2 separate regions of the Homo sapiens genome follow, and region 2 is linked to region 1. Evidence: fine-mapped expression QTL. A gene starts in region 1. The other region holds a variant in brackets. All regions are shown on one strand. Distances are from middle to middle.

Region 1 (5,379 bases):
ACTATATCCACTTGTTTAAAAAATTGCTTAGGTGTTGAAAAATTGCTGTGGCACTTCCTGGAAAGTAATTTTTAATACAGGTAAATGGGTGAGTCTTGTGTAAAGTCAGAAAGAGCACCTTGGAAAATGCCTGAATTTTCCTTTCAAATATATTTATAACCAATCTTCAAATAATATTTTTCTCAGACTGGAAATTTGTATTCTAAATTATTTTTAGAAAAAAAAAATCCCCACCCCCTCCAGAATTAAAACACCTGTAAAATTCAGGATTATATTGGAAGTGTTGACATGGTTTTAAGGGTAGCAATTGCAAAAGTGCTACTAAAATATATTATTACAGGTATATTTTTATATCAGTTAATTGGTACACCAACCCTTCTGAAAGAGTGTTAAAGAAGAAGCATAAAGTATAACACCTTGAGTCCATGATATATTTTGGGGAAGAAACCTCTTGCAATCTTTAAATTAGCATGAAAAGCTACACCACCAAGATTTCCATAGCAAAGCCATTGGATGAAGCCTCCCACTCAATGTGACATAAAAGTAATTCCTGAAACTTTGGAAAGTCAATAAAAATATATGGAACATTAAGTAGAGGTAAAGAAGGGATTGTAACTAAACTTAGAATAACGAATTAAAACTCTCCCATGGCTTTGATATGGCAACTATAAAATGTAGGGTTACCACAAAGTTTGAAATTATAGAATACTATAGTATTCTTAAGAAATATTATGACATTATATTTTTAAGGTTTAATTAGGTAATAAGATTTGATCCTTTGATGGTATATTCAGTTATTCAACGGACAATATACGTCTACTTGTACTTTTATAAGTAAATATTTATATATACCGGAGGTCAATTTCTGTTTCTGTGGTAACTGCCCTACAGGTAAGCTTAGCAGCTTTTAATGAAGTAGAATTGAAATACTTTTGGGGGAAAGTCACACTTCTATTTAAGTATATGTATCTTTTTTCGGGATTATGTCATAGTGCAATGTAAATCTTAGTTATGGTATTTAGAATGTCAGAATGTCACATTTTGTGCTGATTTGCATACTTCAATAGTCTGGAGCAGTTGAAGCAGCTAAACTATTTAGCTCTGGGAAGGTTGGAATTCCCGTAAGAATTATAGTGATCTATGTGTAACATAACATGAGAATCAGACTTCCTGAAGTATCAACTACTAGAGGTATTACTAATAACAACGGGCCAAAAAAGAGGAAAAACTTCTTCAAAGGATAATGGATCAGTACTTTTAGCCAATTTGTGATTTTAAATTTTGCCTGATGGAGTTCAATTTCACTCTAGTCGAGGCATTCTTGTTCTTCACCACTGGCCTTTCTGCCATCCATTCTCTTTTCTTTATGGCTGTTGCAAATTTTCCTCATCTCTTCTTCATACTTGATAAAATTCTCCCCAAACCTTGTCCAAGCTTTGAATGGAACAGTAATAGTATTACGGTAAGGTGGTCTCACCTCACTTACCTTCAGGAAAATTCCATATTTATTAGAGCCCACATCAAAGTAGAACCTTTTATTGTCCACTCTGAAAGAAGTCCCCTCTGGGAGTTCAAGCGGGTCATCGTCTCCACCTCTTCGTTCTTCTATGTCTCCTTCGCCATAGTCTTCAATCAGCTGAACCAAGGCATCACGAAACTCAATCATTCCTTGTGCTGGGAGGACAATAGTCTGTTCTTGGCCCAAACTGTGGCCAAAATAACCTATCATGCCAGTCCCCCGCATCATGGTTTGTCTAATCCGTAGGAAGCGACCCCGCTGATTTTCCTTTAGGTCTAGGTAATATTTCCTATTGTCCCTCTCGATATAGTCTGTTTTCAGGACACTGTGAGGATGCTCTTCGGACCCCACCGAGACTGGTGGGGAGGGTGCCGAGTGCTTCTGCCTCCTTCTGGAGCCTTGCTCTTTGCTGTGGCCATGCTCTTGCCGGTGGCCTTTCAGGCCCAGGTGGGCATAGTGCTCGATGAAGTCCCCTAGACAGTCCTTCAGCTCCGCTGCCACAGACAGGGAGAGGGTCAGTTTACTCTTTCTGATGTTGTCCTGCCGGCCTCTCCCTATCCAGACTTCGGCTATCTTTAGGAAGCGGCCCCGGGAGCTTTGCTTCACGTCTAGGTAAAACCTCTTTTTCTGGATGTCCACTCGTTTGGAGGCCAGCTCCTGGATTTCGGCTGCGCCCCCGGCCTGATTAGGGGTGGCTGAGGCCGCGTAGTGGGGGTAGTGGGAGTGCTGGGCCTGGGGATAGAGTCTACTCTTGCTTAGGCCAGAGCCCCCTACATTCTTGCCTCCGCGGCCGCGGCCGCCGCCGCCTCCCCTTCGCCTGGCTCTTTCCATCTTCAGCTGCAAGTAACAAACAGACACACGGGATGGGGTGGGGGAGGGGTGTTGAGAACAATCGCAGACGCCCCTCGGCCTGACCGCCCCGCCGCCGCCCGCGACCCCCACGCCGGGCCCGGCTCCCCCGGCGCCGCAGCGCGGGGCTCCAGCCACTGCCGGCCGGTTGGCGGCCGCCGCTCCGGCTCTGCCCGCGCTCCCCGCATCCCTCCGCCGCCCCCGGGGCCGCTCCCGCACGCCGCCGCCGCCCGTCCCGCGCTCCGCGGCCCCAGGTCTCCAGCCGGCGGGCACTCACATCATCTCTGCCATCACCGCCGCCGCCGATGCCCTTCACGACCACCGCCGCCGCCACCGCCAGCTCTCGGCCCCTCTGCTGCAGCCGCCGCAGCCGCCGCCCCCCGCCTCCTCCCCCGCCGCCGCCGCTCGCACTGCCCCCCGCCGGAGCAGCCGGGCAGGGGCATCGCCCGCGGCGCCCACCGCAGCCGCCCCTCCTGCGGCCGCTGCGGGGGCCGCCGCCTGACTTCGGACACCGGCCCCGCACCCGCCAGGAGGGGAGGGAAGGGGAGGCGGGGAGAGCGACGGCGGGGGGCGGGCGGTGGACCCCGCCTCCCCCGGCACAGCCTGCTGAGGGGAAGAGGGGGTCTCCGCTCTTCCTCAGTGCACTCTCTGACTGAAGCCCGGCGCGTGGGGTGCAGCGGGAGTGCGAGGGGACTGGACAGGTGGGAAGATGGGAATGAGGACCGGGCGGCGGGAATGTTCTCACTTCTCCGGATTCCACCGGGATGCAGGACTCTAGCTGCCCAGCCGCACCTGCGAAGAGACTACACTTCCCGAGGTGCTCAGCGGCAGCGAGGGCCTCCACGCATGCGCACCGCGGCGCGCTGGGCGGGGCTGGATGGGCTGTGGTGGGAGGGTTGCAGCGCCGCGAGAAAGGCGAGCCGGGCCGGGGGCGGGGAAAGGGGTGGGGCAGGAACGGGGGCGGGGACGGCGCTGGAGGGGCGGGTCGGGTAGGTCTCCCGGAGCTGATGTGTACTGTGTGCGCCGGGGAGGCGCCGGCTTGTACTCGGCAGCGCGGGAATAAAGTTTGCTGATTTGGTGTCTAGCCTGGATGCCTGGGTTGCAGGCCCTGCTTGTGGTGGCGCTCCACAGTCATCCGGCTGAAGAAGACCTGTTGGACTGGATCTTCTCGGGGTAAAGTGTCTTCCTATTCCCGTTTTCCCAGCTCCGTGCCCCGGGGTATCTATAGTGCTAGGCTTCTGAGACACGTGGAGGCGCTTAGGCCCGCGGAGCAGGCCCCTGGGCTGTGTTTGGGAGATTCTGGAAAAACAGACTTTCTCCCTTTTCCTTTCCCCTCTGGAGCAGCTGGGAAAGGCGTCTCTCGGAGCTTCCGCCATTCAGAAAGTGTTTCCCCGCCCCTGACGGCCCCAGCTTGATGTTTACCTTGCGCGCTTAGTTAGGATTGCTCTTTCTAGTACGGCCTTTATTATGGCAGAAATTGAGCCACTACAGGTCTGCACAGCAAAGTCGAGGGAAATAACCTGCTGTCTATGATTTAGCAAGTGATGATGGATATTTTTGAGTTCAAATCACTCAGTCTTTAATGGATTTTCTTTTCTTTTTTTCCTAGTTGAATCTCAGTTGTTCTCAGGCTAGGTTTGATATGAAAAATACTACTCCCTATTGAAGAGGGTAATATAATTCTTAGGATGCTAATACAGGAGTCTGTAAGTCGGAGTACTTCAGGCTTTTTATGGTTCGGTACATTTCTTTTTAGGGGTGGGATATTGGGATAAGTAGGACAGTTCAGATCTTGATGTCATTGAATAGTGGTGTCTACCTAAAAGGAAGAGGCTGGGGCACAAAATTATAATTTAAAGTGTTTACTTCAGCCAAAATGAGGACAGCTGCCCAGGACTCATTTCCCAGTTGCCTTGGGGAGTGCTCCTTCAGCCTTGGTTACAAGCAGGTTTTTAAAGGCGAAGGGGAAGAGTGGGCTGAGACAAAGTTGGTCAGGAATTGTTATTGGTTTACAGAGATACCATTGCTTAGTGATTGGCTGTACACTGTAACTCATAGGGTATGAGTTATCGTGTCCAGCATATGGCATTTTATGGCTTCTTGGTTCCAGTCTAGAGCCCATATAGCAGGTGGGCTTTAAGAGATAATTATCCAGCTCAGACCGGGAGTGAGACGGGACTGTTTTTTCATTCTAATGCCTCTCTGGGCCTGATAATTTAAAGGGGCTTGCATTCTTCAGCTAAAATTTTATTTTCTTTTATTTTTTTTCCCCCACAGTGGTCTCCCTTTATTAATCCAACAAATGTTTATTAAGGACTGCTCTAGGCACTAGAGATACCAACAATGAACAAAACAGACAAACATCTCTCTCCTTTTGGAGCTTACATTTTAGTGGAAAGAGACAGGCAAAAAGTAAAATTATAGGATGACAGAAGGTGAAAATAGAGATTAAAAAGGAAAGGGGGATGAAGAGTGTGTGTGTGTGTTGTGGGTGGGGGGCTGTAGGGAGCTGCAGTTTTACAATAAGTGGTCAGGGACGTCCTCGCTGAGAAGGGAATTTTTGAGTCCAGAGCTCAAGGAAGTGAGAGAACTTACCTTGACGTTCTCTGGAGGAGAAGAAAGTACAAAGGCCCTGGGGGAACCTGCCTCTTTATGTTCAGAGAGCAACTTAAGAGGCCTAGTGAGCTGGAGCAGAGCGGAGAGGAGGTCAGAGGTCAGGCCAGAAAGGGAAAGGGGCCAGAATGTGTAGGACTTTATGGGCTATATTGAAAATTGGGGCTTTCATTCTGAGGGAGATGGGAAGCTGTTGGAGAGTTGTTAGGGAAACGTGATCTGAATTATGTTTCTAAAAAATTGGAGTAAGATATCATAAAATTTGCCATCTTAGTCTTTTTTGTATCTGGCCAATTCCACTCAGAATTCTTTTTTAAACAGCTTTATTGAGATATAATTAATATATCATATGATTCACTCATTTAAAGTGTGCAATACAATGGTTTTTAGTTTGTCTT
Region 2 (5,379 bases), 61 kb before region 1:
TGAGCTCAGGAATTTCAGGCTGCAGTGAGCTCTGATCACACCTCTGCACTCCAGACTGGGTGACAGAGTGAGACCCTGTGTCAGAAAAAAGAGAAAAGAGTGTTCAGTATTGGGAGCGGAGGGCTTTCTGTGGCTAGCCATCGCCTGGAACAATGTTTTTTTTGTGGTCAAACTGTCATAACAGTCCTTTGAGGGGGATGTTGCCAGAGCAAGTAATTTCTCAATCAGTAATTTGGTCTTTTTCACTCCTGAGTAAGTATTCCATTCAGCATATTATACCATTGCATAGCAAACTACAATTTGTCTATCCATTGATAAATTCTCTTGGGAAAAAACTCAATATACAGCCAATAAATTTGTTAAACTAGGCCAGGTGCAGTGGCTCACACCTGTAATCCCAGCACTTTGGGAGGCTGGGGGAGGGGTGTGGATCACTTGAGGCCAGGAGTTCGAGACCAGCCTGGCCAACATGGTGAAACCCTGTGTCTACTAAAAACACAAAAAAATTAGCCAGGCGTGGTGGTAGGCACCTGTAGTCCCAGCTACTCGGGAGGCCGAGGCAGGAGAATCGCTTGAACCCAGGAGGCAGAGATTGCAGCAAGCCCAGATTGCACCACTGCACTCCAGCCTGGGCAACAGAGCAGGATTCCATCTCAAACAAAACAAAACAAAACAAAACAAAACAAAACAAAACAAAACAAAACAAAACAAAACTGTTTTTGTCTTTTTGATGGAACGTAGAGAGAGCTACATCTAACTGAACAAGTGAAAAAAGTAAAGATTCCCTTAGGCAGAAAGCTAAAATAATGTGATAATATCTAAACGTTGGTTAATTTTTTTTTCGGTTAGAGAATAAATAGGTACAATTTTTTTTTTACTAGTCTCCGAGTCTTTCAGCATTTTAAAAATTTTTCTATAATTTATTTTAAAGAATCCAAATTAGGCCCAGTCCAAAAAAAGGGAGTCATCTCCTATTTTAGCAAGCGCTTAGCATAGCTACTAATTGAACCTCTTACATTTGTCTTTAATAAATCATCACTTCACCGAAGCAAGTAGAAGAATGGTAATTTGCAAGATTGTGTTGTCTTACTTACAAGTACTCAAGTAATTTCTCTCTCAGAATTCTCCTTGATCAAATGCCTACATTTTACATATCTTTCTTTAAAACATAATAAATCGTTCAGCATTATTATTTTCATGTAACAAATACTTATGTGGTAGGTGTCAGGGGCACAGTAGTGAAAAATCAACAAGCTGATCCTAAAAACAAGTTGCAAATATTGTAAATGAACAGTTTCCAAGTGAGAAATTCATCAAGCTGAGATTTTGCTTTTGGTGAAAAGATGCAGAGAAGTGAGGAATAAAGACATAAGGTGAGATTTCCCAAGGAAGGGCATTCACTCTTACTTCCACAAGCTTGAAAATGCAGGAAGTTCTGTGGTCAAGAAGCTCATGTCTGGGATTAAAAGCATCATTCTTCAGAATGGCTGCTATTCCCTCACCCTAACGTGGAACATTGTTTATAACATACAACACACAAAGAATGGCATTCTTTAAATTTAAAAACAAGATGGGGCCGGGCGTGGTGGCTTATGCCTGTAATCTCAACACTTTGGGAGGCCAAGGTGGGCGGCTCACCTGAGGCCAGGAGCTCAAGACCACTCTGGCCAACATAGCGAAACCCTATCTCTACTAAAAGTATAAAAATTGGCCAGGCATGGTGGTGCACACCTGTAATCCCAGCTACTCAGGAGGCTGAGGCAGGAGAATCGCTTTAACCAGGGAGGTGGAGGTTGCAGTGAGCCGAGATTGTGCCACTGCACTCCAGCCTGGCCGACAGAGTGAGACTCTACAACAACAACAACAACAACAACAACAACAACAACAACAACATGGAAGATGTAGCCTGGATTTTGTGCAAGTAGGACATACAGGTCATACAGGTCAAATATGACATACAAGTCAAAGACCACAACAAATTTGCTTCATCTTCACAGAAAAAGCAAAGTTTGTTTGAAATTATCCTATCAAGGTACAAATGGGCAGAAATTAAAGACAGAAGCAATTTTTAATGAATAAATTTCCTTCACTCCAACAACTTTCTGCCATATAGTGATGAGAATGAGAAAGGAAACCTCAAATGCAAATGCTAAACTTTTACGCTGACCTGTTTTTACCGCTATCTAATCAGTGGGCCAATAATGTCCAGAACAGGCAGGCATTGCCTGAGACACAAGAACCATCCCTTGCTGTTTAAGTGACTATTCATGCTGGCAGCAATTTTCACAAAGAGAGAAAACACTGGGGGGAAGGAAAGAAAAGTTCATTTTCATTGCTATTCCTCTGTAATGCCAAAAATAGTCTGCCGAACAGTAGCAGGGGAAAAAAAAACTAACAGACAACTGGTGTTTGCCCGTTTCTAAAAAATATTTGTTAATGAATTGACTACAATGAATAATTGTTTTTGCATCGGCTGGAACAACTTAAGATTT[G/A]CCAATGAACAGACTGCTAGCCCAGTGATGGACAGTGGTGCTGCTGGTGGTAACAGAAGCTATTATTCTTTAAATGTTTGCTATGTGCCAGCCATTATTCCACATCTAATCCCACAATAAGCTAATGAAGTGAGCATTATATTGTGTTCAATGTATTAGGTTGATGTAAAAGTAATTGTGGTTTTGCCATTAAAAGTAATGCAGGCTGGGCATGGTTGCTCATGCCTGTAAATCCCAGTACTTTGGGATGCCAAGGCGGGTGAATCACCTGAGGTCAGGAGTTCAAGACCAGCCTGGCCAACGTGGTGAGAAACCCCGTCTCTACTAAAATTACAAAAAGTAGCCAGGTGTAGTGGCGGGCACCTGTAATCCCAGCTACTTGAGAGGCTGAGCTACTCAGGAGAATTGCTTGAACCTGGGAGGTGGAGGGTACAGTGAACCGAGATGGTGCCATTGCACTCCAGCCTGGGCGACAAGAATGAAACTCCATCTCAAAAAAAAAAAAAAAAAAAAGAGTAATGCAAAACCATGATTACTTCTGCACCAATCCAATACAATGAGGAAATGAGACTAGGGTAAATTATTTGTCCAAGATCGCACAGCTAATATGCAGGAAGAGCTGGAATTTGAACCCAGGTTGGTGAACGTCAAAGCCATGTATAAGACATGCTGTGGAAGAGCTCATGCTTGCTAAAACTTGAGTTCCCAAAATGCCTAGGAAAACATGTGACTTGATATTAAAAACCTAATAATAATAGACCCCACATGCCTTAGATTTAAATAACTCCTTTTTTTTCCCCTGAATACTGTATTTCGTTAGAGCAGTTGAATTCACTCAGTTATGTACTGTACAGTCCAGCAAAGCCAACAATTATTTGGTTGTCACTGTAGGTTTCTGAAGAAAAAGTTGCTTAGGTGTTCTGTGCCTGGTTACTTGTATTATCTTTCTCTAGGTAAGATGTGTCTGATGCTAAGACAGTAGTTCACGGATAGAGAGAGGGAAGGCAACTGAAAGTCAAAGGAGGGTAAAAACCAGGAAACTTGAAGGGACCTATGAAAAACTGAGAAGAGTTAGGAGCAAACTGTTGAAAGATACCACTGCGTGGTGCCCCAAGAGCAGCTGACAATTGGCATGTTATTTTTCATGTTCCTTTTACACAATGGAAAACCCATGACTCTGCTTTATGTATGAGGCAACTGAATAGTTTTACTCTAAAATGAGTTTCCAGACCTCTGGTATTTGATTAAAGAAAAGCAATCTCTTCATTTTTAAAGCACCCAATTTTTCAGTCCTTCCGATTTTTTTCTTTGGGAATACATTAAAACTATTAACTGTCCATGTGTTAAGTAGAAATTATAGGAGGTTATTGCTTTAGACTAAGCTCCTGCGCTAAGCCCCAACAGATCAAATTAAAAATCAAAATGGTGTCACTCATGCCCAAGGTTCCATATCACCAAACCAAATTAAATTGTTATCTGACCTTTTGAGAAATCAGGAGAGAGATGTAACAGCATAATTTTCCAGACAGGTCAGTTTTAATCAGGATGACGATAAAGTTCCCTCTGCTTTAATTCTCACAACAAAAGGTAAACTGAGGTAACTGGATGTTAACCAGTTATTTCTCTAATGTTCTGTTTTCTTGTTCCTGCCTTACAAGGAAAGTAACTTTGAAATGACCAATATGCTTTTTGTTCTTTCTTTCTGTTTTCTTCAGCCCCGTCTATAAAACCAAACTTGTCTGCTTGGATCATTAGAACATTTATTCTATTTAATTGAATGAAGTGTTGTTGGATTCTAGAATTGCAAATAAGCCAATTAAGATTTTTTTTTTTTTTTTACAGAATCTTGCTCTGTTTCCCAGGCTGGAGTGCAGTAGCACAATCACGGCTCACTGCAGCCTTCACCTCCTGGGCTCAAGTGATCCTCCCACCTCAGCCTCCTGAGTAGCTGGGACTACAGGCACACACTACCACACCTGGCTAATTTTTGTATTTTTTGTAGAGATAGGGTTTTGCCATGTTGCCCAGACTAGTTTTGAACTCCTAGGCTCAAGCAGTCTGCCTGCCTCAGCCTCCCAAAGTGCTGGGATTTCAGAAGCAGCTGCCAATTAAGATATTCAAGTGAGGCCGGGTGCAGTGGCTCACGCCTGTAATTCCAGCACTTTGGGAAGCTGAAGCGGGCGGATCACGAGGTCAGGAGATCGAGACCATGCTGGCAAACACGGTGAAACCCTATCTGTACTAAAAATACAAAAAAATTAGCTGGGCATGGTGGTGGGCACCTGTAGTCCCAGCTACTTGGGAGGCTGAGGCAGGAGAATGACATGAACCTGGGAGGTGGAGCTTGCAGTGAGCCAAGATGGTGCCACTGCACTCCAGCTTGGGCAACAGAGCAAGACTCCATCTCAAAAAAAAAAAAAAGATATTCAAGTGAAATTTTTGTAGTTTTGTCTTTTGACACATGATATCTATGAATTTGCCAAAATGGAGAAATATATCACCAAATTTAAAGTATAAAATATGTCCTACTTATATACATAAAGTGTAAAATATGTTCTACTTAATTTAGCCTTTCTCTTTAATTATCATTTTCTGAACGTAAATTATATGGCTGTCTATCAAAATGTGCAAATAAAAAATTCCTACTTTGACACTATCAAAATAAGATATTTAAGTACATAACTAAATTACAGTTTATCTTCAATATACCTTATTCATCACCTCACACAGAATTTATCTGATGTTTGGATATTTAAAAAGCCTTCTTTACAAACTATTGATTCATGCTACATGGATGAGCTTTAATCCCATTTATATGAAATGTCCAGAACAGGCAAATCTATAGCGACAGAAAGTAGATTAGTGGTTGCTTAAGGCTGATAAGTGG

Alleles and levels. Positions count from the first base shown, and alleles are read on the strand shown. Sizes are in standard deviations (SD) of each study's normalised expression.
In carriers of allele G in region 2, the expression in caudate of the gene that starts at base 2,924 in region 1 tends to be higher than with A alone (small effect, 0.24 SD a copy in GTEx).

Evidence for each region. PIP is the estimated chance that this variant, and not a neighbour inherited with it, causes the effect.
Region 2: its variant is the best candidate, but not a certain one, in a credible set for the expression of PURG in caudate (GTEx, PIP 0.61).

The regions. Positions count from the first base shown.
Region 1 is chr8:31,030,433-31,035,811 of GRCh38, forward strand. PURG (purine rich element binding protein G) reads right to left here and starts at 2,924. Exons shown (of 2, transcript NM_001323311.2): 1 at 2,646-2,924; 2 at 418-2,356. The coding sequence starts at 2,350. The coding sequence ends at 1,307. WRN (WRN RecQ like helicase) reads left to right here and starts at 3,378. Exons shown (of 35, transcript NM_000553.6): 1 at 3,378-3,541. RefSeq lists silencers at 2,906-2,955, 3,116-3,375, 4,346-4,415 and enhancers at 3,131-3,652, 4,486-4,535.
Region 2 is chr8:30,969,681-30,975,059 of GRCh38, forward strand. No RefSeq gene overlaps it. Among named protein-coding and RNA genes, the nearest start is that of TEX15, 59 kb to the left of the region's middle. The variant G/A (reference allele first, on the strand shown) is at 2,493.